Linked DNA regions of Homo sapiens: all the other regions are linked to region 1. Evidence: fine-mapped expression QTL. A gene starts in region 1. Each other region holds a variant in brackets. All regions are shown on one strand. Distances are between the middles of the regions.

The links. PIP is the estimated chance that this variant, and not a neighbour inherited with it, causes the effect. A credible set is the group of variants that fine-mapping cannot tell apart.
Region 2: its variant is the best candidate, but not a certain one, in a credible set for the expression of KCNJ3 in cerebellar hemisphere (GTEx, PIP 0.54).
Region 3: its variant is the best candidate, but not a certain one, in a credible set for the expression of KCNJ3 in aorta (GTEx, PIP 0.54).

The regions. Positions count from the first base shown.
Region 1 is chr2:154,692,674-154,702,895 of GRCh38, reverse strand. KCNJ3 (potassium inwardly rectifying channel subfamily J member 3) reads right to left here and starts at 4,201. Exons shown (of 3, transcript NM_002239.4): 1 at 3,419-4,201. The coding sequence starts at 4,120.
Region 2 is chr2:154,853,741-154,863,962 of GRCh38, reverse strand. KCNJ3 (potassium inwardly rectifying channel subfamily J member 3) reads right to left here. Exons shown (of 3, transcript NM_002239.4): 3 at 5,609-9,236. The coding sequence ends at 8,650. Among named protein-coding and RNA genes, the nearest start is that of KCNJ3, 160 kb to the right of the region's middle. The variant G/A (reference allele first, on the strand shown) is at 6,114.
Region 3 is chr2:154,582,471-154,592,692 of GRCh38, reverse strand. It overlaps LOC105373693 (a long non-coding RNA gene), which reads right to left. Exons shown (of 3, transcript XR_001739741.2): 3 at 1-2,823. It also overlaps the pseudogene RNA5SP107. Among named protein-coding and RNA genes, the nearest start is that of KCNJ3, 110 kb to the left of the region's middle. RefSeq lists an enhancer at 8,605-9,332. The variant G/A (reference allele first, on the strand shown) is at 5,819.

The DNA of each region.
Region 1 (10,222 bases):
GTAAAACAAAAAGAGAAAAGAAGATAACTAAAATAAATGGAAAATTCAAGTAAAAATTCAATATGGGGAGAAGAGGAAGAAAGAATATTCATCTTAAAAGAGCTGTCTATAGCTATATTTATAATTCAATCACAGATTTTAATGAGGAACTTCAAACTATAGCCTTTGATTTTTATGTAATCTACTTTCTCTTTTTATGAGTAGAAAAAGGACTGACCCCTCCAGGCATAAAGTTGAAAGATCTATATTTGACTACTGAAAGATATTTTAGTGTTTGTAAGGCTGGAAGACAGGAATAGAGATGAGATAAAATGTGCTTTCAAATAAGTGAAAAGCATAATAAAAATTAGGCAAATAAGTTTTACAAAAAACTTCCATCAAAAGTTAGGCATTTAAAAACTATTATACATGAGAAATTTCATAACAGAAAGCATTAGAAAGCCATGCCCATGTTCTTATTGTCTCCCCAAGAATCAAAAAGTGCTTTATAATTATTAAATAGAAGTTTTACATTTATCTAAAGAAGCTTTTATTTAGCAAATAAGAAAACAGTAATAGAAAAATTAGTAAATTAAATTAGGTAGTAGGAAAAGAATACATGCACTATAGTTACTAGCATTAAATATTATACTGGATTTTGTTGCCTTAAAAATTCTACACATTCTGCATTAAAGACACATAAATTTTGCATTTAAATTGTTAAATGGAGGTTAAAAGGGGGAAATTGTGTGTAATATTTAATCAGAATAATGTATAAAACTGATAGGGACATATTATTATGCCAAGATTTTGGTATAGCTTCTATTTAAAAATACAGTTGACTGTTTTAGGTCACTTAATCTCAGTTCTTAAGAGAAAATGAGAGCAACTTATTAAAGGCAAATCTCCCCTCTAATTTTGCTGAATGTTATTATTTCCCCAATAAAACATGACTCCTTTTTAATGAAGTCTAAGGAATAACAGGAACTACAGCAATTCATTTAAATTACCATGCCTACAGGAAAGATTAACTTTGAACAAGCTACGCTAACTGACTAGTTGAAGAGCTACTCACAGATCAACTCTCTCCCTTCGCCATGGGGAGAATTTCACCATAATTTTGTTTAAATATAAATTGATGCCACAGGTAAATCGTGTTTACTTCTAGCACTGACATCTTCCTAACAAATCAAAAGTAAAAGACTTTATAAGAATATTATATGTATTGTTTTAACTAGATGTTTTTATCACCTTGTGTTAATATAGCACCTTGCTCCAAATTTGTCGACACTATACATCTTTCATCTTTTTAACTAGGATACTCTTTATGGTATATGTGGTACATTTCCTTAGGCAGAAAAATTATTATCAGTACCCTGCACCAGTGTAGAGACTGAGTGCTTCAGAATCATTGTACCTTTGTATGAAGAAAATAAACAAAAACTAACATATAGGTTAATTCTAATTATGACTGGCTTTGTTGAAATAAAATGTAATAAAATCTATAAACATCAAAAATATGTTGTCTGGAAAAGACATCTGTAATAAATAACCTTAAATGTTTAAAAAACTAAAGAATGTCTATAAATAACCTTTAATGTCTAATTGTCAATTTCCATTACATCAGTTAATATTGTAAACTACTCTTCAGTAAGTCTCAAAGTGATACATAAACATGGATTGCTTGAACAGAAACCTTGCCACTATACTAACAAAGTATTTCTATCTGTCTAGTAGGCCTAACCTAAAGAAGCAGGTGCTATATTGTGGTCTATGCAAAGCTAAAGACACATACAGTTACTATTGTAATAAACATATCTACAACACAACTGCCCAGCTTGATCTGACAAACTGCTTGGTTCAAACAGCGGTCAATAACAATACACTAAGTTAAATTTTAAAAAATTGTATGCAGTTCATTGAAATTAATTATATATGAATATGATCTACCCAAATTATTTATTCATAGTTAATGAACGTTTACATCAGAACCAGGTTGATAATTTTCCACTGTGGTGTACAAAATGTAGTTTATTTACTGTATGTAGCACAGTAAATATGCATATGATATGATGTGACAGGACAAGTGAACTGCTTTAATTTAAACACTTTACTGAGCAACTTGGTCAAGGATAATTATGGTAAGATCTTGTAAGTGAATAATGAAAATGACACAAGAGCAAAACTTTTTAAAAGCACATTGGATCCCTTTTAACTACAACATTAAGTTGGGGCTGTGTAAAACAATATATACTTGTGGATTGGAAATTGAAATTTCAAAGGCAAAATCTCAAATATTGATCAGATTTTCATTTTATTAATACTAAATTCAGACTCTGGCTTCAGTTCTCTACGCAACCTCAGATAAATATTTTTCATTGTACGAACTATTTATTTAAGGTCATCTTTTTCAATTTATGGACATCTGAAAACTACTAAGACAAATCCCTCTAGGGAAAAAAATGAATTGTAAATCACACACAGAGACAAACAACTGGGCTTTAAGCCTTCCTTCCCATACTCTAATTGGATGAGTGATTAAGAAGGACTTCTCTTGTTTGTGGTGGTGCCCTCTAACGACTAGACGGACCTTGCTTTAATAACCACTCCATGTGCAATTTGTTTTAGCATTTACACCGTTGATGGTAGGAAGCAATTCTTCTTTAATGGATGCTGAAAGCTTCAAGTGAAATCTGTAATTGACAAAGGCTTCACAGAAACAGGCAATTAAGAATAAAATTAACAAGAGGCTCTACAGGAAAAGCACTCAAGCTTTCAAAGAATACTTCTCCAAGAAAATATTTAGTAAAAATAAAAATTTAAAAGAACCAAGTGTGGTTTCTTCCACTTTACTATCTGCTTCTTGTATCTGTGTGTTTGTTAAAAAGATGACCATAGAGTTAAAGTCATTGGGTCCAGAGGAGTAATCCGCCTCCTAATATTATTAGGGGGAAAAAAAGGAAAGAAAAAAATAAGAAAAGCCCATCGTGAAAGTTGAGGCAAGTTCAGCACCTATTTCTTCAAAATAACAGCTGTTCAGTTGAGTTCTAGTACCTCGCATTGAATGGGGTAGTGTGTAGACAACAAATAAAATCGCTCTGAATAGCGAAGCAACAGGGACAGGAAGGCGAACAGGGCACTAATTGCCCTCATGGCTCCAGGAGCCAACAGCAGTCCTCACGTGTTACTAGTCCAGTAAGTGATACAAGCAGATCCGAAATGACGAATATAAACAAGAGCACGAGAGTGAGTGGAAAAGGAACAGAACTGTCAACCGCATTCTTTGCCCAGTCCTCCAACCCCCAACCCCCCAAAAGGAAGTTTACCTGTGGCTATAGGTAGAACCAGGGGAGGGGGCCCGGGCTGGTTCTCAGACGAGTTACTCCGCGGGTTTGGGGGACGCAGGTCTCCCGGTGGGGAAGGGGCGGGGAGCACTTACTTTGAGCAGCTTGCAGCGAATCTGCGCGGAGACCATGTGGCTGTTGCGCAGGTTGCCCACCCGGAACATAAGCGTGAGTTTTCCGTCCCTCATGGAGATCACCGCGTGCTCGCTGAACATGAGGGTCTCGGCGCGCTTCTTGGGCTGGGACATCTTGATGAACATGCAGCCGATGAGGAAGGCGTCCACGATGGAGCCCAGGATGGACTGGAAGAGGAAGAGGATGATGCCCTCGGGGCACTTGTCTGTGATGTATCGGTAGCCATAGCCGATGGTGGCCTCCGTCTCGATGAAGAAGAGGAAGGCAGAAGGGAAGTTATAGACATTGGCCACGCAAGGCGTGTAGTTACCGACGTGGGCTTTGTTCAGGTCGCCCCGAGTGTAGGCGATCACCCACCACATGGACGCCATGAAAAGCCAGGCCACGGTGTAGGTGAGAATGAAGATGAAGAGGTTCCAGCGCCACTTGAGGTCCACCAGCGTGGTGAAGAGGTCCGAGAGGTAGCGGCTTGTCTCGCTGCCCAGGTTGCCGTGCTGTACATTGCACCGGCCGTTCTTGTCCACGAACCGCTGCCGCTTCTTCTTGGGCACAAGCTGCTGCTGAGGGTCCTGGCCTGGCCCCTGGGGCTGCAAGCCCGAGCCGCTGGACGATGTGGTCACTACCTGATAATCGTCCCCAAATTTCCTTCGGAGTGCAGACATAATACGAAGGGGCGAGCCAGATTCAAACGCGAAGCGAAGGCGCAGGAGCTGGGCGCTGCAAACTAGCACCAATAAGGAGGTGGGGGCGGGGGAGGAAAGGGGGCGAAGCGAGCGCTCCTGGGTGGGGGGCGCACCCGGCAGGTAGCTGCGGTCTCTGCCCCCTGCAGACGCCTCTCCTTCTCCCCTGGGACGGAGGCCTTCTTTCCAAGGTGAGTCTTTAAAAAGTGTTCTCCCGCACTCAAGCCAGGAGGGATGCAAGGAACAGGAACCCAAGCGCAATTTTGCCTCCAAGCTTCCAGAGGCTCCTCTTTTCTTTCCCCACCACCGGCATCCCGGGTCACCTCTTGACTCCCCACGGCCCTCCTGATTATCCTGCAGTACCCCCAAACTGACTGCTTAAAATTAATGAGTTGACAAGCGAGTCCCAACCCACCTGCCAACTCGCTGGCTGCCTAAGAAGCTGCCTTTACCTGCCTGGACCAGACCCTCCCCCCTCCCCGCCGCTCCCCAATCTCCCGCCCCCTGGGACCGCTCCCCGCACCCCCGGCGCACCTGTCTCCTATCTTTTAGCCAAAATCCCGCCCAAAGGCATGTCTGCCGGGCACTGGTGCAACGCCCCCTACCCACGCCCTCCGGGCTCAGATTCCCGGGTTCCGGACTCCAGAGACCTGTCCGCCTGGCGTCCCCCGACCGCCGAGTTTCCGCGGGCGCCACCGGGGCCCTCCGGCGGACCCTCAAGGGCCCGCAGGCCGCCCCCGCGCTCAGCTGAGACACGGCAGTGCGCGAAGCCTGGGCACTCACCCAGCGGGAGAGGGCAGGAGGCGGCGCAGCGGGCGGTAGCGGCAGCCTGGCCTCGCACTCTGCGCTCACGGCTGTTTTCCTCGTTCCCACTTTTCCTGGTGTACCACGATGGGCGCCAATGCAGGTCCCCCAAGCTCCGCACCTCCCTGAGGGCACCGCGCTGTCCCTGCCAGAAAGATCCTTGGCGCACAGAGCACAGAATGACTCGAGCGGGGGCTCGTGGGTTCCTTGGCGCTGTGCCCTCCTTCCAGGCGACAGCGGTGCTGCTGGACGGGGTTCGAGCCTTGGGCTGCCGGTCAGACTTTCAGGTTAAACAGTAGCGCCGCTCTAGCTTTTCCTCTGCCTCTTCCTTCTTCGGTCCCCCACTCCTTGTCAGCGCCTCGGTGGCCCCGGGTGGAAGATGCGAGGCGCAAGCCGGGGCAGCAGGAATGTGGTGTGTGTGGTGGTGCGTGTGATCAGCTGCAGAGCCGCGCTAGCCCCGCCTGTCCCTGCCTTCCCCCGCTGCTCCACCAGCCTGAATTGCACCTCCGAGCCTCAGTTGAGCCTGCAGTGTCTGGCAGCTCAGGAAAAGCGAGCCCCTCCAATGAGAAGCGGCTCTAAATCTGCTCCCAAACGCCCGCCAACTCTCCTTCCTCGCCCCCTGCATCAGTCAGAAAGCCCCCAGTAAAAAGCAAATGCTGCTCTCTGAAGGAAGAGAAGTACAATATGTCTCTGTAACTGGGCACTCGTTTAAACGGATGCCTGGATTTGGGGTTGCATCATAAACAGAGATCCCAACTGGCTCTCAGATAGGCATATTCAGAACTCAAAGTTGCAGGAAGCAGGAGGGGCCTTAGGATGAGAACAGAAAGGAGAGAAACACTAATAGAAATCCTTTCTGCAAATGGCTCTATTAGAAAGGCTCAGAATATCTAGAGTTAATGTGTGCCTATAATTGAAGGAAGAAGGCTGGATTTTAATGGCCTCAGCCTGGCAGTTAACTTAATGGAGGGGCAAAGTGCAGAAATAGCTAATAGAGTGCCCATGAGTAAATACCAGCTTGTTTACCACATTTCACGTTTGCTTTAAAATGCCATGGTATCTTAAGGCATATTTCAGTCAGCCCAGATACATGAAGTTGATTTTGTTGGAAAATCATCAAATCATGGCATTATAAAAGCAAAAGGCTGCTATAAGATTCCCATGGAAAGGAAAATAAGTACATAATTACTCTATGCATTCTCTGCCAATAGGTACTCCTCTCTACCTCTCTACTTATAAACCAACTGCAGGAAAGTGCATGTCAGGTTGTCAGCCATAAGCAGGGGACTCTCACTGTTATTTGGTTAAAACATCTATCCTCAGTTACAGATGCTTCTCCTGCCAGTTCGCTGATAAAAGGTCAGTAACTATCTGTTTGTTCTCTTAAAATTACATAAGAAGGGAAAGTGACACCGTGGGAAGTGGAAACTTCTCTGGTCCTAGAATCATAAGACCTGATTTGAGTCGCGTCTGTGCCATTTACAAGCTGTGTGACCTTGAGCAAGTAGCTGAACAACTTTGAGACCTAATTTTCTCCCCTGAGAAATTGGGAGTTTGAACATTTTCCTAGTGTTGGTATGAAAAAAGAGAGTAAATGTGTTTTTTTTATTTCTGCTATGAAGGATGTTATATAGTGGGCTATAAAGTTGCAACAAGACCAAGAAGAGATTACAAATGAGCTTTTGGAGTTGGCAGCATGCTGTGAACTAACACCTATACTCTCATCTCATCTCTGACTACTCTCCCCCAAGCTCATTATGCCCTTGGCAGCTTGGCTTCTTTCAATTCCTGATACACACCAAAGCATAGCTCCAGCCCTGGGCCTTTGCACTAGATCTGTTCCCTCTACCTAGAAAGTTCTTGCTCTGCCGCTCCGTGTTGCTCGCTCCTTCACTCATTCAACTCTCAACCTAAATGCATCCTTCTCAGGGAAGCCTTCCCTAGCATCTCAGGTATTCCCATCACATCAACCTTATCTATGTTCCTCATCTCACTTTTTTTTTTAGCTACCATTTTCTTCATTTGTTTGTTGTCTTTCTCTTCCACCATTATCAGTTGTAGCATGTAAGCTGTACAAGAGCAAGGACCTCATCTGTCTTGTTCTCTGCTATGTCTCCAGTACCTAGAAAAGTATCACATACTAGGTCCACAATAAATATTTATTAGATCAATAATATGTGCCAATCTATATCACTGGAAACTTTACATGCATTGAAGCTCTCTGAGTAATATGGAATTAAATAAAAGTAATGACTAAATCAGATCACTTATATGGCAATATAAAAAACATGTAAGTTTTTGTTGAAAAAGAGTAATACTTCCTATGCTCGTTAGCTTTAGAAATGATACTGAATCAGGTTCCAAGTCTTTTTTATTGTTATTGCTGCAATATCCCTCATAATTCCCCCTCTCTTTAAAAAAAAAAAGTCACTACTGTTCTTCAAATTCTCATTTCAAGTTAGGCCCAACTCAAATAACTTTCTTGTCTTTATTTGGTTTTCCTCTCCTGCAGACTGCCCAGGATAGTAGTACTAGATCTCTCACCTTAAACCATGTGTTTAGTATTGTTATAGAAAATAAAAGTTCTCCAGTTATTTCATCTGGAAGATCTTAAAACATTCCCACTTTTTGAAAAACACTTTTTCATGAAAAACCTTTGCCATTTTCTAGCAACCAAATTTATAAACAAATAAGTTTATACTTCAGGAGACATGGTCTAGTCTAATCCTCTCATTTTACAAGTGAGGAAATTGGGGATATAAAGGCGAAATAACTTGTTCAATGTCACAGAGTTGATAAGTGGAAACAGATTTGACCACAGAACAATATGACTGTAGAACCTGGATGCTCTACCGTCCCTTACCAGGTAGTGGCAGAGTAAGAAAAGAGCCTAGGATTCCTGATTCGTGGCAAAGGCCTTCTTCCTTTATAGGCCTAGCTTCTCATGCAGGTGAAATCTAAGATTCTCCAACACATGGCATAATCTAGCTTTCCAAATTATCTCCTACCTTCCTTTTAATGGGCACTTTGCTCTAGCCAACTTTGACTATTAGGTATTTCTCAAACATGCCCTATATTATCTTCATTTGCTCACTTTTTTTCTCATCACTTAGAATATCTTTTTTCTACACCTGCAAAGTTCAAATAATAGGCACTAGTATGTAAGGAAAGGGAAGGACTTCTTCATATTTTATTTCAATTGCTATTGATGTCATAAAGTTTTTCCTTATATACTCCCACTAAGAGTAATACATCCCTCCTCTGAACTCTCATTTCCCTAGATTTGCAATGTGGCATTTTTCACATTCTAACTGGTATTTCAGCTTAGAATTTATGAAGATTCCCTCTGAGCACCCTGAGCATCGACTTCTTAATAATTTGGTACCATCCGGTATTCCATGATCCAAACTGGCCTTACGCATGATAAACACTTGATAGAGTTTTAGAGAGAACCAAAATTTATTAAGAACCTACTTTAATGTGCCAGGTAATGTGCTTAGAACTGTACAGGTTAGCATTTATATTACACAGATAGGCAGTGAAGCAGGGATTCCAAAACACATCTGCTTATTGTCAAGATTTCTATTCTTTTAATGACACAGTCCTGCCAGGGAAATTAAATATTTTTAAGGATGCCATTTTGTCACACTTTAAATGTCACTGAGGCTTTGACCTATTTGTGACATTGAGTTCAACTCCTTGAAAATGTTCACAGATGAACCAAACTCATCTTTTCCTGTGAGGGCAGCTGCTTCCAGGATGAGGTTCTGGAGGGCAGCCAGCCCCGTTGTGCAGAGGCCAGGAGGATGTGTGGGGAATGGATGATGGAAGGCCTCCTAATCAGGTGCTGTCTGATGAACTGAAGTGAAACACTGCAAGCAGAATGGGTCAAAGGAGAGAGAGGCACACAATTTCAGGCCAGGCCACAAAGCCAGAAAAGATCTGGAAAATGTAACTGCAGAATACAAAATCATCTGGAGTCTAACATTTAAAGATAGGGTGGTAGATTACGAGAAAACTACCATACAGTTCATGAGGGTGGGGGGGATCAAAGCTATATTTAACAAACTCGGCTAGGAGCAAGCTACATATTTATTCTGCCTGGAAAGTACTTCTGGCAGTGTCTTATTTGCTGTGTCCAAAATTAGTAATATCATGAATAACTATAACTTCAAAAATGAAGAATATGATTCTGTGTTTTATACTTTCTACATGCACTTATCCTATTATGTAACTGAACGGTGTGGGGAAAAGAGTATATCTAATATGAAAGAAAAAACCTCTGCCCCTGAGAAGTCCAAATTCTAAAAATGACTTAATCGGCCAACTGTGACAAAAGCAAGGCTTTGAACATCTCAGTATCCCTGGAGTCTGTCTTCTCGTCATTCACTTATTGCCACTGTGACATACCACGTGACAGTCTGCATGGCCAGAAATATTAATTACTGTCTGGGGAAGATGGTATTATATTTAATACTCCTTTACTCCTAATCCTACCATTCTCCAAAAGTACAATGAAGAGATGGGCAGGCCTGGGGATCTAATGCTTTCATACATCAAAAGGTGACACATTCCCATTGCCACCATAAGTTTTGCTATATCTGGGAAGAGGTCACTCTTTGAAATTCTATATGCAATTTTGGGAAATAGAATGGTGTTCCTTTTTTTTTACCCTCCTAAAAAAGAATGCTGAAGTTATTTTCTCTCTTGCCAAAAAGAGAAGAAAAAAACGAGAAGGAGAAATCAGTTTGAGATTTGATTGCGCAGACGTGAGAACAGAGGCATTGCCATACCATGGCAGATGACTCATCCAGCCTTTAATCTTGGCTCCAAACCCTGGCCTCTGCCTGAGGATTCGGAGAAAGGCAATATGCCATTCTAACTTGTAGACCATTTATTTAACAAGGTTTTCCTGACTTAAACCTTCTCTTTACTGCAAAGCTGTACATTGGAGTATGCTGATTTATGAAATAATAAGGACTTTTAAAGTCTTCAAGAGCTCGACATCTGTTTAAAAAGAAATAACTGTTTTATCAGACCTAAAGTTTTTTTTGGCAGGGCTTCAAAGAAAAATAACAATTTCCTATTCTCATCTAGGTACATGGAAGTTATACTGAGGATTTCTCCCCCTGAGAACACCAATGAAGTCGCAGATGTCAAAATATGTATAAGAATTTTGCCTAATTCAGTACAATAAACCCTTAATGTGCACAAACCATGTATCTAGCACTATGCCAAGGTTTGTGCAGATCAGAAATGAAGAAATTATGTCAACAAAAT
Region 2 (10,222 bases), 160 kb before region 1:
TAAAATTATGCATTCATGAAACAACACAAGGACTCGTAAAAAAGGAAATGTTTATAGAACAGGAAAAAGTACTTGAAAATTAAAACTAGTATAGCAGAAATGAAAATCTGGAAGATAAATGACCTAAAGTGAAATAAATTGACAGAAATAAAAATCGTAAAGGATAAAGTCAAGAAAATCCCCAATAAAGTACAGAAAAAAATGCAAAAAGATAAAAGAGGAAATATGAAGGGGTTAGAGAATCAGTCCAAGAACTCCAACAGCCAAACAATAACAATTCCAGAAAGAAAGAATAGAGGAAAATGGAGAGGACCATGAGGATACAGATTGCAAAGGCCCAGCAAAAGGGATTAAGTGGGCCCCTACGAAGGTAGATCATTTGAAAATTTTAGAACACTGGGGAAGAATAGAATATCTTAAGAGCCTTATGGATAAAAATTACTTTCATATGAAAGATTATTATAATTCAGAATGGTATTAGATATCTCAATAGCAACACTGGAAACTAGAAAAAAAAAGAACAATGTCACTGAAATTCAGAAGAAAAAATAATTTGTACAAGAGACCAAACAATTAATTACAAGGGAAAGATTTATTTAAATATGTGCAAGGCCTCTAAGAGTTTATCACTATTTCTTTCTCAGAAACCCCTGGAAAATATGTTTTATCAAAACAAATTTTATCAAAACAAAACAAAGTAAACACAGAAAGAAGAAAACATGTTCCATGAAACAGGGTTTCTACACCAAGAACAAGGTGAATGGACTCTCCAGGATGATTACAAAGGAAGATCCCAAGACAACACCTGTATGGCGTCAAAAGATCTTTCCTTCATAGGAAACGTCTCAGAACGTCTTGGTGGAGGCTTCTTCAAGAAGATGAAACTTGTAGGGTATCTAATGAGTCTGACAAATTAACAGGAAATCATTTACATAATTGGGGAAGATTCTATGACTGTATTAGTGATACATACATAAATGAACAAAGAAGTCAGTTATCAATTATAGGAGGAAGAAGCTACAAAGGGTGAGAAAAATAATCAAAATACATGGGGCTCAGTTGTGATAGAACTTAATGAGGACATTGATAATTAAACTCTTAAAATATAGTGTTGAAAATCTAACTATACTAGAGTGGATGTTGAAGACGTATAGTGGATAGCAAGGGTTAAAATAGAACTAAATAATTTACCACAGTGGAAGACAAACAAATAATACCCCAAAATGGAAAACCAAGGGAAGCAATAAAAGAATGATTAGAAATTTGCATGTAAATAACAATAGAGTCATTTAAAAGGGTTGAAAGTCTTTGTCTCTGGGGAGAGAGTGAGGAGAGAGTAGGTAGAGAGTGGGGGCTGTTTTTATTGTAACAAGCCTTGTAAAAACTTCATGACTCTTTATGTGTATGTGTGACTTTCTACTCTATATATATATATATATACACACACACAGATATATGCACATGTATATATGAAAGCGTGTGTGTGTGTGTATATATTTATGTATATATATATAAGACATGTGAAACAATGTCTTTAAAATTCAGGAGTTTCTTCCATGTATGTGAGTGTGTGTGTGTGTGTCTGTGTGCAAATTCAGGAGAATTAGACATGGAGATAGGTTCTAATTTGGGGACTGAGATTTTAACACCTATAATGGGAAAGGTGCAACTTCGATACCTGTTAAACAGGAAACTGGAACTGAAGACCCTGAATAAGTCTAGGGCTGTGTAAAACCTTATCAGGAACCAAACTTTCCACCTAAGGCCCAGTGACAAGGAAGCTTGTCTGTGCACGGGGCTATGGAGAGAGCAGAAGGTATTCTGGGAGAAGCTGAAACCTCAAACCTAAGCATCATGCAATTATGGATATCTTATCCAGGATATCCCATGTGAAGAAATTTTTGTTACCTGAAAAATGAAATCATAGTGAAACTGAAGAATATGAAAATATTTTCCTTCCTGAAAACACGTCAATTAGACATATAATATACTTTTAATCAACAAGAATGTCCAGAAAAAAAATGTAAAAAAAGAAAAAAACATTTAAGATGATCACAGATGTTTGCCTAAATAACTGTTAAAATACATACTTAATTAAGAAAAAAAAGAAAGGATGAATGAGTAGGATGCAAGAAGCTATGGTGAATGAAGAAATCAGGAAATATATAGCCAATTATACAGATGCATTGACTTAAAAATAACAGTTTTTTGTTAGAACATTAAAAACACGTGTAATACTATGCAAAAATAGCAGAGAAAACAGGGGAAGATGTGGCTGAATTTAATACGCTGTAAGATCCTTCTTTTGTTTGAAAGGAAGGTGGAGATGTTAATTAGCTTTGGTTTCATTAGTTGCTGTACTCAAGCTTAAATTTTGAAGGTTACTACAATAATAGACATGGAAATTTTTTTTAAAAAAGGCAAAGAAAGAAAACACAAAATCCAAGAGAAGAAAGAAAAAATAAAAACAAATTTATCAGTAGGTGTGTATCTATGAATATTTATATTTATATTAAATATATATTTATATAGCATGTTATATATAACATATTTTATAGAAACATATTTATATAACAAATACATTTTATATATAAATATCACATATTTATATACATTTGTATAGAAATATATTCAAGTAAAATATCAGATTGTTATAGTATGCATTACATATAAATTTATGCATATGCAGTATACATATACACACCAGCACAGGAAATATACACACTCATTTCTAGGTAGTGATGGCTTCCGATGAGGAAGAGAAATGGAATAGTGTAGGATTTGGAAGAGACAAAGTGGCTGTTTTAGGTTTCTTTCTTTTTCTTTTTATTCTTTCTCTTCTTTTGAGACAAGGTCTTACTCTGTCACCCAGGCTGGAGTGCAGTGTCGTAGATCATAACTCATTACAACCCCCAAACTCCTGGGCTCAAGGGATCCTCCCACCTCAGTCTCCCTAGTAGCTAAGATTATAGGCACATGCCACTATGCCCAGCTAATTTTTTTAAACTTATTTTTAGTAGAGATGAAGTGCCACTGTTGCCCAGGCTGGTCTTGAACCCCTGGGCTCAAGCAATCCTCCTGCCTTGGCCTCCCAAAGTGCTGAGACTACAGGTGGGCCACCATGCCCAGCCTGTTTTAGATTTCTATGACACTTTATTTATTTAATAAGTACATGAGGTAAATACAGCAAAATGTTACTGTATCATTTTTTAAAAAAACCTCTGGGTCTGAGGTACCTGGGTTTGAAGAAACTTTCTGCTTATTTGCAGTATTTTTTCAAGTATCCACTGGACTCTTGATTTTTTAGCTTGTCTTTTTCATTTTTACCTCTTTGCCACTTAGGTATTTCTTTGTGCAACACTTCAAGTGTCTACTTTCCTCCACATTTTCTTCATTTTTATTTGTCCTTGCTTCCTACCTACTTTTTTTTTCCTCCTCTAACCAACACACAATTGTGACCACAGCTACTCCTTACACGACTCTCATTTTCCATCCACCATTTCTCCAAATGACAGCTAGGAAAAATGCAAACTCCATTGCACAAGACATTCTGTTAGGTTAGAAGCCATTGCACACAGTCATTGAATATTTATGTTCATGCATCCAAATTTTCTGGAATATGCAGTTGTTTTTAAAAGGGATTCTCTTTATTCTTTATACTTCCAGGGAGCAGAGACTATACCCCATGTTTGTGGATTTAATTAAAAACCCGCTAAACAGCCTCTCTGAGAATAAGTTTCTTTAAGTGTAAAATAGGGATGATCTTTACCATGCAGAGTTGTTTCTAATATATAAATAATGTGTGCAAGTCACCATGTACATGATTGACACATTCAGAGCTGGGAGAGGATAAATAGAAGCATGGATTTGATTCTTAGTAAACAAGGAGAATATAGTAGGTCCTACAGTATTTGTGCTCTATAGCATCTATTGGTCAGAAAAAGCCCAGATATTCTGAAACAGCTATAATTTCAAAAAATCTTTACAAGTAGATTTAAAAATCCCAAAGAAATCACAGTGAAACTGGAGAATATCTAAGTTAAAGAGAATATGCAAACATCTTCCTCTCTGAAAACACAGCATTCAGACATATAATAGACCTTTAAGCAACAAGAAAGTCCAGAAGAAAATTGTAAACAACAACAACAACAACAAAATATATTTTGAGGAACAACCCTAACAATTCTATTAAATGATAAAAGACCATCTGTATGGAAATCTACTAGGTCAGAAGCTGTAGCGACTTAGCTTTTCTAAATTAATTCTCTGAGGTGCCTGGGAGTTGGGCACATTACACATCACAAAACTCATCTGATCCAAGATTAAGAACACATTTTTCTGTGAAACACAGGTGAAGCAACTGAATGCTTTATTAAAAGATGATTAGATACTTAAACAAAATTAGAAAAACTATGCGTTTGTCTGCTTTACTTACTGTAGCTTTTAAAACACTGGTTCAGCAAGGGGTAGGATAACCATGAAGCTTCCTCCAAGAAACGCAGGTCCTGAGTATCTGCATTATTAAGCTGACGTTTGGTATTGCTGAAGCATCTTACCAATAAGCAGCCAAAATAAAAGGAATTATCAAGGAATGACTTGTGATGAATTTAATGATTGCCCTTCAGGAATTAAGAGTCTTATGATAAACAAACTGAGTCAAGAAATGTGAATAATTAAGTGGTGAAGAGTGCAAAAAGGATGAGAACACTAAAAATTAAACCCAATCATGTTTCAAAAGTTTAATACCGTTTTTTATAAAATTGAACTTGCAGTATTGAATACATGAGTTTATATTTTTGAAACTAAATGACCTTTTACACTTAAATAATTATAGATTTCATGCCAGAAAATGGAATTAGGTTGATGCTAATTTAAATATGTACAATGTAATTCAAACATAAATTCTGAAGAATGTAAGAACTAATAGAATGTAAGCCAGCTTTCCCATGATGACCCCAGTCTTCCTCCAGTAGAAATACTGTATTATGAGCCATTTTGTCCTGACAAAAAGGCTCTTTTCATAATATTTTAAGCCATATATAGATAAATTTAAAACAGCATAAGAATCTTTCAGAAATAATTAATGGTAAAATATCCTTATTTTTCATTTTGTATATATTTACAAAAGGGTATTTACATATTTCTGAAAAGAATAAATGTTTAAACTGAAGATAAGCATTACCAAAATAATTGTGTTTCTTTTATTTACACCATTTTGATAAATAGAATGAAATATCTTACTATAACAGGACCTATATCATGAAAATGCTATAAAAAAGTTCTAGTTTCCACTTGTTATGATAGTTCAATGATCACATTAGGTTTTCCTTTCCAATAGCCATGACATTGGTGGGCTGAAAATGATCTTGGCTTAAATTGACTTTTACTGTCTTTAATGTGAGCTCTTACAACTTCCAGAAATGGAAATAGCAGAGGTTAGGTTTTTATTCATTCAATAAAATGCATAACTTTTCATTACTGAGAGACATGTCACGAACATATTGAACAAATGTTACATGAAACAACTTTGGTAAGAAGTACTTCAGGCTGAAATATACGAAGCTGAGATGATTTTGCTTAGAATGATGTGTCAAAAAATCAGCAAAAGGAGAAGAAAAGCAATTCTTTATTTTTATCCAAATATATCAGACTTCATAATTTAGTTTCAACAAAAACTTCACCATATATCATCCAAACCAAGACATTGTAAGAGTGAAAGGGAGTGCTACCAATAATTACACAGGTACAACAGGTATAAACTGGAATTTTCCTGGGTAAACTGGGACCTATGATCAACCTAGAAATAAGGGTTAAACTGCAATTACATGCAGAAATCATACCTTTCCCACGCATGTGTGGAAAAGATAAAAAAAATACCATTCACTCAGATAAGGTAATTTTGACAACAGTAGCACTTTCTCATGAGATAGATTTCTGTTCACATATTATCCCCGTCCTAAGCCAGTCACATTTTCTAAAATAATCAATTTTTATTCCACACAGTTACTTTGCATTATGTTACCCTGTTTTTATTCTTTTTTTTTTTTTTTTTTTTTTTTTTTTTTTTTTTTTTTTTGATGTTGAGATGGAGTCTCGCACTGTCACCCAGGCTG[G/A]AGTGCAGTGGCAGAATCTTGGCTCACTGCAACCTCCGCCTCCCAGGTTCAAACGATTCTCCTGCCTCAGCTTCCCCAGTAGCTGGGATTACAGGTGCCTGCCACCATGCCCAGTTAATTTTTGTATTTTTAGTAGAGACGGGTTTTCACCATGTTGTCCAGGCTGGTCTCGATCTCCTGACCTCAGGTGATCCCCCAACCTCCGCCTCCCAAAGTACTGGGATTACAGGCGTGAGCCACTGAGTCAGGCCTGTTTTCATTCTCTTAACTGATACTTTGATTGTCTGAAGTGGTCTTATTTGTTTTTTGTCTCCTCCCCACTCTCCTTCTGGTATACAGTGTTCATGGTGAGCAATGGCCTTCTCTGACTTAGCCATGTCCAAATCCCCAGGAACTAAAAATGCCTACGACATAGAAGGCATGCAAAAATTTTGTTGAATGTGTGAATATACTTGGAGAGTTTGTTTTTGGTTCCGTCTTCTCCTTGGTACCAAAGACAAATTAAAATGACTCTCCAAAGTAAATTATGGCTCTATTTAGTTTTAAGTTCTTGGACTAAATGATCTATGCACTTTTTTTCCACTGCTGATAAATATACCATGCCCTGTGGACCCCCTTCTCTCTCTGTCACTATTTTGTTTCCTACATCTACAAACTAAGAAAGCTAGGTTATCAATGGGTATAGGGCAATTTGCTCCATTCACAGTGGATGCACACTCCAGATTGATCATTTTGCCAGTAAGAATTCCCTGGTATATGTTTGCACCTACAGAATTTGGTTGATACAGAGGTAGCCAGAAGGTATTATTATAGTCAATGATTTAAGTGTTGATGTATTAATTTGCCAATAATAAAATTATCACAAAATTGTTAAAAAACAGGAAATAATGAGAGCCCAAACTAGCAATTAATGACTGACATATTAATAAGAATTTTTTTTAAAGTTGGGGCAGACTGGAATTACAATACTTAAAGAAGTTTTATAGGAAAACCCATGATATTCTGTTAAGGAGCACTTTTAAATTTTCATAAAAGTCTGCATTCCAAATTTTTATTTTGAAAGTGTTCTACTGATCACTAGTTTTGATTCCTGCTAATGAGTCATAAATATCAGACTTCAGGATTAGAAAAAACAGTACTGTTAAAATTATTTGGGTAGACTAGGGATCTAAGACACCAATAAAATCAGTGTTCACCAAAAAACTGTGTGTAAGATATCTTCAATTTATCATCTAATTTTAATTTCTCTCTGGTCTGTGCAAAAACTTCCTCCTGAACTATAAGTGACAGGCATGGGATAGGTTTCCTAGGTGAGGAAAAAGTCTATCCTGTTACAACAAATGCCATAAACAAGAAAACAGAATAAAAAAGAGACTCAATTAGACATACATATTTTAAGCATAAATATTTATCATCTGTTTCATTGCATTGTCATGTCTTCTTAAAATGATTGGTTTTTAAAATGGACAAAATTTCCAGAAAAAGAAAGAAAATGTTTCCAATTTACTCAGTTTGAAACAGGGACAATTAATTGTGTAACTTCACACAGATTCTGATATATTCAATATAACTTGGCTACTGTCTATTAACATGATTCAGTGTTTGTTCAGAGCTCATCTTTGTATTAGATCATATACAAAACAGATTTCCAGATTTTAATTAGTCTAGGAAAGGAATAATTCTCAAATTAATCAACAATTATTTCTCCCCAGTACTAGCAACTTTTAAAAATCATAAGAAATGTTCAATGCTATACTGAGTACTGGTATGCTCTAAAATTTACAATTTAAACATGTAATGGTTATATTTTTGCAGGGCCATAGATAGCACAAACTTGTGTGATTCTCTCATATAAAATACAATTGAAAGCCTCCCAAGACCTTAAACAGCAGAAAACATTAAATCAGATTTTAAAATGACAAAAATTTAAGGCTAAAATATTTGGTATTAATAATTAATGCCAGTAGCCTTCCTACTCTAATAAAGTAAACATGCACAAGAACTACAACTTTGAACAAAACATCACAATTTTATCAGATATATATGTATGTATGTATGTATGTGTATGTATGTGTATATATATATGTATATGTGTGTATACATACACACACACACACAGACATATATTTAGTTTTATCGCCCTGAAAGCTATTCACTCATGTTTGGCTTAATACATATGTTAGAAATGTCAGGGAGAGTATCTCCCCTTTAAATATATATATATATTTTTTTTCCAGAATATACAATATAAATATGCCATATATAAATCATGCCATAAAACTAAATGCAAAATTTGCACATTATTGCATGCTTGATGTGATAATACATGCCCGTTAATAACTTCCTTATGATGTCCTCCCTCCGTAACTGTTGCTTTCTGCACATTCGCAATACTTGGGAAAGGAAGGGTTCTCAAATATGCTTGTAGAACTGGGAGGAAAATATACTTTCAGATTCCTTAGGGAGAATTACCTCATCGCCAAATATTGGACTATTACTAAATCAAACATTAAATAATGCCTAAGGGAGTGCTTTGTTATGTGAAGCGATCAGAGTTCATTTTTCTTAATTTGGCTGGAAGGTTCCCTTCCATCCTAGCTGCTCCTCCAGCCATCTTTTGAAGCTTTGGTGGCAAATCAGCCACAGACTGGCTCATGGGATCAGATAACATCTTGGTGGTTTTAGATACCAGTTTTTCTTCTGAGTTGCCCGGAACTGAACTTATTCGTTGAAGTTTCATGGGCAAGTCTCCCAAGCTGTAGGCTTTTTCTGAAGTTGTAGAACTCATCCTCAAGAGTTTTTTGGGAAAGTCTTCTCTTCCAGTAATTTTCTGCAGCTTAGATGGTAGTTTTGTAGTAATATCATCTAGTCCATCTAAGCATTCCACAGAATTATGTCTTTCTTTGCTGTTAGTTATGGCTGGTGCTATTAAAGGGGACGACATGAGAAGCATTTCCTCCTGCTCTTTCACACTGTAAGGTGGGGTGGGGACTTCAAATGTTGCATGGAACTGGGAGTAATCAACTTTAAAGAATCCCTCTTCTAAGGAAATTACAGGAAAAAAACGATGACCCCAAAGAACTTCATCTTCAGTATATGATGTTCGAGCTTGACAAGTCATCCCTACAAGAAAAGAGAAAATTCTTGATAAATTATGCATAGTGGAAGCACATGTAAAGCCGGTTTGGCCTAAATAATTCATTTCACTTTCTTATCTAGGTTTTGGACTGTTTATCTGAAGCCCGAATAATAGAATAGATTAAAAGTTGTACTCTAAGTTAATAGCTTTGATACATATACTTTCTTTCAACAAAAAACACAGGGTGATGATACTATTCATGTTTGAAGGATAATGCATCATTACCTAAATATTAACCACAAACCAAAAGCAAAAGTAGCATAGAATAATCTCAGAACATACATGTCCCTATAAGGAGATAAGTGGAAAAATTATGTAACAATTTTTCATTGTTTAAGAAACAGTGTCATAAATAAAACAAATCTGATTTTGAATCTAAACTTTAATATTGTGTAAACTTAGAAAATATATTTAACTGAGTATCACTTTATTCTTCTGCAGAGTAAAGCACTGTCAACAATACCTGTCTCACAACACTGCTGTGACCATGAAATAACATATACAGAAATGTAAAATTTGTCATATAATATCTACAATAAGTGACTCAATTAATGGACGCTTACCTTTTTGTCTTTACGTAGCAAAGGATTGCTATGGGGGGTGGGAGGACAAAAGGTAACTCTCCCAAGTATTTGTTAAACGAATAAAAGGTGGTAATATTTATATGCTAGAAAAAGAAAAGTCATTGTGCTGGTTCTATTCTTTTGCATCTATAAGGCCAGAATAAGCTTTTGCTCAAGTTTCAGAAATCCATATGCTAAAATCAGTGTTCTGGGCCATGTGATGTATCAAGTTCCATTCCTGCTCTAGGAATATCTGGAACTGGTTGCTGGCTATCAGATGTAAATTTTTTCAGTTTATCAATTATGTTCCTTGGATATCATTTGCCTCATGGTATTCTAATTTACTCAATTTTGTTCTCTTCATAAATCATTTATTTCGATTGTGTTACAATCAAATCAGTCAACTT
Region 3 (10,222 bases), 110 kb after region 1:
ATGGGTGGCATCACAGTTCCAAAAAATCTTCACCTTTTTCTAAGAATCTTCATCAATATTCCACCCCTGGGTTGAAGAAACCCATAAAGGTAAGAAGCCCCAAACCCCCTTGTATGAGACTCTCTGAGTATACCTTCACTCCCTTTTCTTGAGTGTGTACTTTTCACTTTGCAAGAAATTGTCATACTTTCACTATTTTTTGACTCAGCCCGGAATTCGTTCCCACAGTGGTGTCAAAAGCCTGAACACTAACTGGGGTCGATGTCCCACTGGCATTTGGGGACCTCTCCGAGCCCACCAATATCAATAGTAAGCACTCAAGCATGATTGTTTAATTTAAATTTGATTAATTGCTACTCAATGTGGTCCATCAAGACATTACTTATAATCTCAGAATAGGAGCTTACAAAGCATCATTTTAATAGTCTATATAGTGGCTATTCGTTAGTGAGGAAGTTGTTTAAAGGTAAGTATATTTAATGTGTAAATAATGTGTTAGCTTTTTTATGTAACTGTCTATTTCTTAATTAATACGTTATTTTTAAGGTACTATTTTTCCTCTATTGGGAATACATTATTTGAGGAACCAGAGTGACTGTCAGAATATGGTACTTAGAGATGTAACAGAAATCCATTTAATTTATAAATGAAACTAGAAAAAATTCAAAGTCACAAGTGAATTTTTTTTCATTTTATAAGCATACATGTCCCTTTCCCTGTCACAACCTTCCTATGTTCAAATGCCAGTGAAACACCTAAGCACAGTAAGATGACTTCCTGAATTGAAAATCAAAATGGTTTTGTAAAGCCAGGAAGACTTAGCTTTATTTTTCTTTTGTGAATTTGCAGTAAGTATTCCATGGCATTCTCAGGAAGATCAATATATCTTCAGCTTTGTTTTATACAGCTGTGCAGGCACCACGGTGAGTGAAAGCTCATCTGGGTTCTTAATTGAATATTCTCCTAGAGATGCACCAAAACAGATCAAAACGACTTTCTTTTAATTTCCTTAGGGGACAACTTGCTGGCATGGCCAATGCTGAATTTCCATCTTGCCTCTTTCTCTTGAGTTTCTCCCTTTGAGCAACACTGTAATAGCTGCTGGCTATGCAATTAGGCATCTCTGCTTCCCCTTCAATCTTTTTCTCCTTATTAAGCTAGTAGGAAAATGTTAAGCCCTTAGGCATCTGCATCTATTAATAGGAAGAGAAGATTAACTGTCACTGTTGCATAGATTCATGATTAGTACACTGCTGACAGAGTTCTCTTTTATTTCCTCCTTTTTGGCAACAAGAAAGCCATGGGCATCATTGCAACAACATAAAGTAACTCTGCAGTAGGGCCTCTAATCTCCTTCTGATGGGAGATAGTTGGCCCTCAATCCTGAATTGTTCATTTATGGGATTAAGACAAAGGAAACAAGTAAACTTAGTCCAAGACTCTCATGTAACAGGTAAAGAAATAGAGGTCATGTGATCTTTCACGGGGCATGAAGGTAATTCATGACAAAACAGAAACAAGTAGAGTATCAAGGTCACCTGCTATTTCTAACTCATCATACTGAAATCATTATATTCCCTAGTATTAGGAATTTTTAGATAGCCTAGGAAATCCAGCTAGTCCTGTTTCTCACTGGAATGGAATTACCAAAAAGCATTAGTTGTAAAGAAAAGGCAATGAATTGTTTGTGGTACAAGCCACTCCAAAAGATTTATTTGCTTAATCAGAAAATGTTTTCTTCAAAGCATCTGGGAATTCTCAATGCATATCATTCATTTGGGTCTAGTTTTTATTTTTCTACAAAAAGGCTATTTTAAAGCATAATTAGGTAAGCTAAAATTTATCAAACACAGAGAGGTCATATGTAGCACAATTAAGTGATCCTCAAAGAGTGATGCCTGGACCAGCAGCCACAGGATCACCTTAGAAATTTATGGAAATGCAAATTATCCAGCCCTACTGAATCTGAAATTCTTGGGAAGGCAGATACCTGTGTTTTAACAAATTCGCCTGGTGATTTTGATGCATGCTACAGTTACAGAACAATTGGCAGAGTCATTAAGAAAACTGTCTCTTAAGTCATTGAGTTTGAATCCAAGCCTGCTACTTAGGAGTGTGACTATAAGCACATCACTTAATTTTTCTATTCTTCAGTTTCTTCTTTTGTAAAATGTAGGCTACATTTTCTTAGTGTTGTTTCCCATCCAAGTACTAACCAGCCCCAACTATGGTTAGCTTCCAAGGTCAGAGGAGATCAAGCACATTCAGGGTGGTAGAGCTGTATAATTATTCCATAATGTTGTTATGAAGATTTAGCGAGTTGATATATGTCGAGTGCTCAGAACGGTGCTTGGCGTATTATAAGCTTTATGTGTATGAACATTGTTACTATTACTATTAACATTGTCACATGACAACTAATCTACCAGTTTAGCTAATTGAATTTAGCTTCAAAAATGGCCTTGAGGAACAAGACTGCTAGAAATAATGGGTTAAAAAATTATTTGGAAACGGTTCCCATGAGGAAGATAAGTTTGAGTTGAAGGACACACTGTAATACCTGAGAATTAAGGCTACTCGTGGACTTAGGGATCTCTACACATAATAGTTGATATTTTGCAACAAAAATGCAGTAGAAAACAAGCTTCAATGCAGCACATTTTTCCATGAGCTGTTTAAGGATATGCATCCATTCTATGGATAAAGGGGCTTTATTTTCCACACATGCACCAAAAATCTCAATTATTTCCATTTTTCTTTGCGAGAACCAATGTTTCACCTGTCCCTGTCCTACAGTCACTTCACAGGAATCAGTAAAGGAATCTGTAAAAGAAGGAAATATTGAGAAAGTCTTTGATTAAAAAACAAAGGATTGAAGCTTGTCATATTATACTCTTTCCTCTTCTTTGACCAAGGATTCTCAAACTTGAATATGCATATAACTCACCTGGGGATCTTGTTCAAATGCAAATTCTGATTTACTGGGTTTCCAGTAGGGCTAGTAATTCTACACTTCTAACAAGCTTCCAAGAGATGCTGATACTGCTAGCTCAGCCTCCACACATGCTGTAGCAAGGGTATATATCACAGCTGATTATTAACAAATCCTGTTGAGTCTTTCTTCATGGACTTTTCAACATCATTTCTTCTGTAGCCATCCTGGTTCAGACACTTAACCATGCTTCTGATCTTCAATCTTCCTCACTTTAATTCACCTGTCCTACCACTGCCAAAGTCATTTTCTCCAACTAGTGTTTTGATCACATTTCTCCTGTGTTCAAAAACTTTTATTAGATCCCCTGCCTAAGATTCATGTACTGAGCATCAACCACATGTTGGGAGCTCTGTTATATCCTGGGAATATAAAAATAAATAAAATATTGGCTCTATCTTTCAAAAGCTCAAACAACTAAATAATTTTAAAACAATAAAAAAGCAATAGTACATACATACCATGAAATACTGCAAAAGCATCAAGAAAGGAGTTTAAGAATTGCTTACATAGGCAACACATTACTTTTACAGGATGAATGAGGACCTTTGAAAATTAAACCCAGTGAAAATGGCAAGGAAGGTCATGGAAGAAAAGTGATCAGCGTGAACAAAGGAATAAAGTCAGTGGTGGGCTGCTAAATGTCTAACAATGGGCTCTGGGGAAGGAATGTGCACAGTTGGCCCTTGCAAGCAGGTAAGAGCAGACTGCAGTATATCACTGAGTAGAGATATGTAACAATGTGGAAATGTGAGCAGGTAGTAGTTTGGTGCAATAGAATATGGAGTATAAATTTGGTTGTTGTTAAGATTTTTTTTATAATATAAACATTCTAGACCATTCAAAAAGCCTTGTGATTTTTCTTCCCCACAGTCACCTTAGAAAAGTAGGGATACCAGGTCCTCAGCCATGCTAACCGAACAAAATATATAAACAATAGTGTGATTGAAGTTCACTTTCATTAGAGCAACCATTGCTACCAAAGCTGGGATTGTTGTCCTTTCAGCTGGCTCAGCTGGACTCAAAAAAACAAGCATACTAGGGTCAGTTAGTCCATAATAGTTGAGTCAGCTCTGGGGCTAGACAGATGTTCCACTACTTAGAAGTGTGATCTTTGGAAAAGATTTGTTTAAGTCAGCTTGTACTGCTATAAAAAAGAATACCATAGACTAGGTAGCTTAAAAATTTATTTCTTAAAGATCTGGAAGCTGGAAATGCAAGATCTGGTATCTGGTGAGGGCCTTTTTCCTGCTTTGCAGATGGCTGTCTTCTTGTATCCTCACATGGACCAAAAAAAAAAAAAAAAAACAGCATCTCTCTCATGTCTCCTCTTAAGAGAGTGCTAATCCCATTCACGAGAGCTAATCCTAACATATTGTAGGTTAGGATTTCAGCATATAAATTTTAGGTGGGGGTTTGGGGGAACATTCAGTTCATAACAATATTTAACAACATTGTACTTACTATTTGTCACTGGAAAAGTGGAGACAGTAATTGTACCTTACCTTTTAAACTTTCTGAAAAGATTAAATCAAATATAACAGGACTAAAGTCCGGCTTAAGTGACAGGGATATATAGGGTTCTCAGTAAATATTAGTGTGATGGTTGATTGTTTTGGCAACTTGACTAGGCCACAAGGTGCCTGGATATTTGATTAAATGTTATTCTGGGTATGTCTATGAGGGTGTGTCTGGGTTAGATTAACATTTGAATCAGTAGGCTAAGTAAGGCAAATTGTCTCCCTCAATGTGGATGGGCCTCACCCGATCTGTTCAAGGCCTGAAAAGGTCAAAAGGCTGACTAAGGGAGAATTTGCAGTCTTTGAGCTGAGAAAAGAGTTTTCTCTGACCTTCAGACTCAGACTAGAACTTACACCATCAGCTCTCTTGCTTACTAGGCCTTTGGACTGTGACTGGAACTATACCATTGGTTTTTCTAGGTTTTCAGCTTGCTGGAGCTGGAATAACACGAATAAATTTCTTATTGTAAATCTCTTTCTATAATATATGTATATACACTGACACCACTCACCCCTTCCCCTACAACACATTTCTTATTGGGTTCTGTTTCTTATTGTTCTGTTTCCCTGGAAAATCCTGATTTATACAATTAGTTATATTGTTATCAGAAAGACAGCTCAGAGGAACCAAGATTCAAAATCATCTGTTCACAAAGTTGGTGGTCAGAGTGAATGCTGTAGAAGGTCAGATTAGAACCCTAAGAGTCTTCAGTGATTATGATTAAGACTTCTTGTTTTCCACAACCTTTTATACCAGCTTGGCCCCACGTTTGGGATGGATGGCCATGAAGCTTAAAGGATTCATTCTTTGTTACCTTAGACCACAATGGATATTTAGAACTCTTTGGTGTCCATGTTGGTTATTCAACCCACATTTCTGTGTTACTAACAGTGAGGCATTTGATTGCTAATAGGTGGACAAGATGAGTTTCCCTGAATGCCCTGAATGTTCTGCAAAGTGTAATATAACGGCCACTGGACAGGTGGAGAACTTCCCCAGCTGCCCAGCAATTTCCTCTTAAAAAGGTGGCTGGAGCTAAAGGCATAGTCAAGGTTAATGCTCCTTTTTCTTTATCCCAAATCAGATAGAGTTTAGGCACTTTTTCATCAAATATAGAAACCCAGCCCAGTTCATGGCTCGTTTGGCAGCAACCCTGAGACTCTTTACAGCCCTAGACCCTAAAAGGTCAAAAGGCCGTCTTATTCTCAATATATATTTTGTTACCCAATCCACTCCTGACATTAAATAAAACTCCAAAAATTAAATTCCAGCCCTCGAACCCCACAACAGGACTTAATTAACCTC[G/A]CCTTCAAGGTGTACAATAATAGAGTAGAGGCAGCCAAGTAGCAATGTATTTCTGAGTTGCAATTCCTTGCCTCCACTGTGAGACAAACCCCAGCCACATCTCCAGCACCCAAGAACTCCAAACGCCTGAACTGCAGCTGCCAGGGGTTCCTCCAGAACCTCCTCCCCCGGAGCTTGCTACAAGTGCTGGAAATCTGGCCACTGGGCCAAGGAATGCCCACAGCCCGGGATTCCTCCTAAGCCATGTCCCATCTGTGCGGGACCCCACTGAAAATTGGACTGTTCAACTCACCTGGCAGCCACTCCCAGAGCCCCTGGAACTCTGGCCCAGGGCTCTCTGACTGACTCCTTCCTAGATCTTCTCAGCTTAGCGGCTGAAGACTGACACCGCCCGATCACCTCGGAAGCCCCGTAGACCATCACGGACGCCAAGCTTTGGGTAACTCTCACAGTGGAGGGTACGTCCGTCCCCTTCTTAATCAATACAGAGGCTACCCACTCCACATTATCTTTTTTCAAGGGCCTGTTTCCCTTGCCTCCATAACTGTTGTGGGTATTGACGGCCAGGCTTCTAAACCTCTTAAAACTCCCCAACTCTCTTGCCAACTTGGACAATATTCTTTTATACACTCCTTTTTAGTTATCCCCACCTGCCCAGTTCCCTTATTAGGCTGAGACATTTTAACCAAATTATCTGCTTCCCTGATTATTCCTGGACTACAGCCACATTTCATTGCCACCCTTCTTCCCAACCCAAAGCCTCCTTCGCATCTTTCTCTTGTATCCCCCAACCTTAACCCACAAGTATAGGACATCTCTACTCCCTCCTAGGTGACTGATCATGTACCCCTTACTATCCCCTTAAAACCTAATCATCCTTACCCTTCTCAACACCAATATCCCATCCCACAGCATGCTTTAAAAGGATTAAAGCCTGTTATCACTCGCCTGTTACAGCATGGCCTTTTAAAGCCTATAAACTCCCCCTACAATTCCCTCATTTTACCTGTCCTAAAACCAGACAAACCTTACAGGTTAGTTCAGGATCTGCGCCTTATCAACCAAATTGTTTTGCCTATCCACCCCATGGTGCCAAACCCATGTACTCTCCTATCCTCAATACCTCCCTCCACAACCCATTATTCTGTTCTGGATCTCAAACATACTTTCTTTACTATTCCTTTGCACCCTTCATACTAGCCTCTCTTCGCTTTTACTTGGACTGACCCTGAAACCCCTCAGGCTCAGCAAATTACCTGGGCTGTACTGCCACCAGGCTTCACAGACAGCCCCCATTACTTCAGTCAAGCCCAAATTTCTTCCTCATCTGCTACATATCTCAGCATAATTCTCATGAAAACACACGTGCTCTCCCTGCTGATCATGTCTGGCTAATACCACAAACTCCAATCCTTCTACAAAACAACAACTCCTTTCCTTCCTAGGCATGGTTAGTGTGGTCAGATTTCTTACATAAGAGCTGGGACTGTGCCCTGTAGCCTTTCTGTCCAAACAACTTGACCTTATTGTTTTAGCCTAGCCCTCACGTCTGCGTGCAGCGGCTGCCACTGCTTTAATGCTTTTAGAGGCCCTCAAAATCACAAACTATGCTCAACTCACCCTCTACAGTTCTCATAACTTCCAAAATCTATTTTCTTCCTCACACCTGACGCATATACTTTCTGCCCCCCTCCACTACCTTTCAGCAAGCCGAATTCATTGCCTTAACTCAAGCCCTCACTCTTACAAAAGGACTATGAGTCAATATTTATACTGACTCTAAATATGCCTTCCACATCCTGCACCACCACGCTGGTATATAGGCAGAAAGAGGTTTCCTTACTATGCAAGGGTCCTCCATCATTAATGCATCTTTAATAAAAATGCTTCTCAAAGCCGCTTTACTTCCAAAGGAAGTTGGAGTCATTCACTGCAAGGGCCATCAAAAGGCATCAGATCCTATCACTCAGGGCAACACTTATGTTGATAAGGTAGCTAAAAAAGCAGCTATCAAAAGGCATCAGATCCCATCGGTCAGGACAACGCTTATGCTGATAAGTTAGCTAAAAAAGCAGCTAGTCCCAACTTCTATCCCTCACAGCAGTTTTTCTCCTTCTCATCTGGCCATTCCCACCTACTCCCCCACTGAAACTTCCAACTATCAATCTCTTCCCACACAAGGCAAATGGTTCTTAGACCAAGGAAAATATCTCCTTCCAGATTCACAAGCCCATTCTATTCTGTCGTCATTTCATAACCTCTTCCATGTAGGTTACAAGCTGATAGCCCGTCTCTTAGAACCTCTCATTTCCTTTCCATCGTGGGAATCTGTCCTCAAGGAAATCACTTCTCAGTGTTCCATCTGCTATTCTACTACTCCTCAGGGATTGTTCAGGCCCCCTCCCTTCCCTACACATCAACTCGGGGATTTGCCCCCACCCAGGACTGGCAAATTGACTTTACTCATATGCCTCGAGTCAGGAAACTAAAATACCTCTTGGTCTGGGTAGACACTTTCACTGGATGGGCAGAGGCCTTTCCCACAGAGTCTGAGAAGGCCACTGCAGCCATTTCTTCCCTTCTGTGAGACATAATTCCTTGGTTTGGCCTTCCCACCTCTATACAGTCCGATAACGGACCGGCCTTTACTAGTCAAATCACCCAAGCAGTTTCTCAGGCTCTTGGTATTCAGTGAAACCTTCATACCCCTTACGGTCCTCAATCTTCAGGAAAGGTAGAACGGACTAATGGTCTTTTAAAAACACACCTTACCAAGCTCAGCCACCAACCTAAAAAGGACTGGACAATACTTTTACCACTTGGCCTTCTCAGAATTCAGGCCTGTTCTTGGAATGCTAAAGGGTACAGCCCATTTAAGCCCCTGTATAGACACTCCTTTTTTTTAGGCCCCAGTCTCATTCCAGACACCAGACCAACTTGGACTGCCACCCAAAAAACTGGTCATCCCTACTATCTTCTGTCTAGTCATACTCCTATTCACCATTCTCAACTACTCATAAATGCCCTGCTCTTGTTTACACTGCCGGTTTACACTGTTTCCCCAAGCCATCACAGCTGATATCTCCTGGTGCTAAACTCTTTAGTTTGTTTGTTTTTTGAGACAGAGTCTAGCTCTGTCACCCAGGCTGGAGCGCAGTGGCACGATCTCTGCTCACTGCAAGCTCTGCCTGACGGATTTATGCCATTCTCCCACCTCAGCCTCCCAAGCAGCTGGGACTACAGGCACCCACCACCCCTCCCAGCCATTTTTTTTGGTATTTTTAGTAGAGAAGGGGTTTCACCATGTCAGCCAGGATGGTCTCGATCTCCTGACCTCATGATTTGCCCACCTCGGCCTCCCAAAGTACTGGGATTATGGGCGTGAGCCACCGCGCCCGGCCCCGCCACTCTTAACTCTTAAAGTAAATAAATAATCTTTTCTGGCAGGGCTATGCCAAACCTCCTTGGGCACTCTCTAATTAGATGTCCTGAGTCCTCCCAATTCTTAGTCCTTTAATACCTGTTTTTCTCCTTCTCTTATTCCATTTAGTTTTTCAATTCATACAAAACCGTATCCAGGCCATCACTAATAATTCTATACGACAAATGTTTCTTCTAACAACCCCACAATATCACCCCTTACCACAAAATCTTCCTTCAGCTTAATCTCTCCCAGTCTAGGTTCCCATGCCACCCCTAATCCTGCTCAAAGCAGCCCTGAGAAACAACGCCCATTATCTCTCCATACCACCCCCCAAAATTTTTGCCACCCCAACACTTTATCACTATTTCATTTAATTTTTCTTATTAATATAAGAAGACAGGAATGTCAGGCCTCTGAGCCCAAGATAAGCCATCATATCCCCTGTGACCTGCACGTACACATCCAGATGGCCGTTCCTGCCTTAACTGATGACATTCCACCACAAAAGAAGTGAAAATGTCTTGTTCCTGCCTTAGCTGATGACATTGTCTTGTGAAATTCCTTCTCCTGGCTCATCCTGGCTCAAAAGCTCCCCTGCCGAGCACCTTGTGACCCCCCACCCCTGCCTGCCAGAGAACAACCCCCTTGACTGTAATTTTCCTTTACCTACCCAAATCCTATAAAACGGCCCCACCCCATCTCCCTTTGCTGACTCTCTTTTCGGACTCAGCCCGCCTGCACCCAGGTGAAATAAACAGCCTTGCTGCTCACACAAAGCCTGTTTGGTGGTCTCCTCACACAGACACAAGTGAAAGAGATGTCCTTTATGGAAATACAATCAAGGTTGTGGAAGTCCAGAAATGCACACAATTAATCTAGAGGAAAGCCATTTCTGGATAATGACTTGATAAATATTTTCAAATATTGAACAACCCTTGTGGGAAACTGGGATTAGATTACTATTTGTGACAAAATATTTT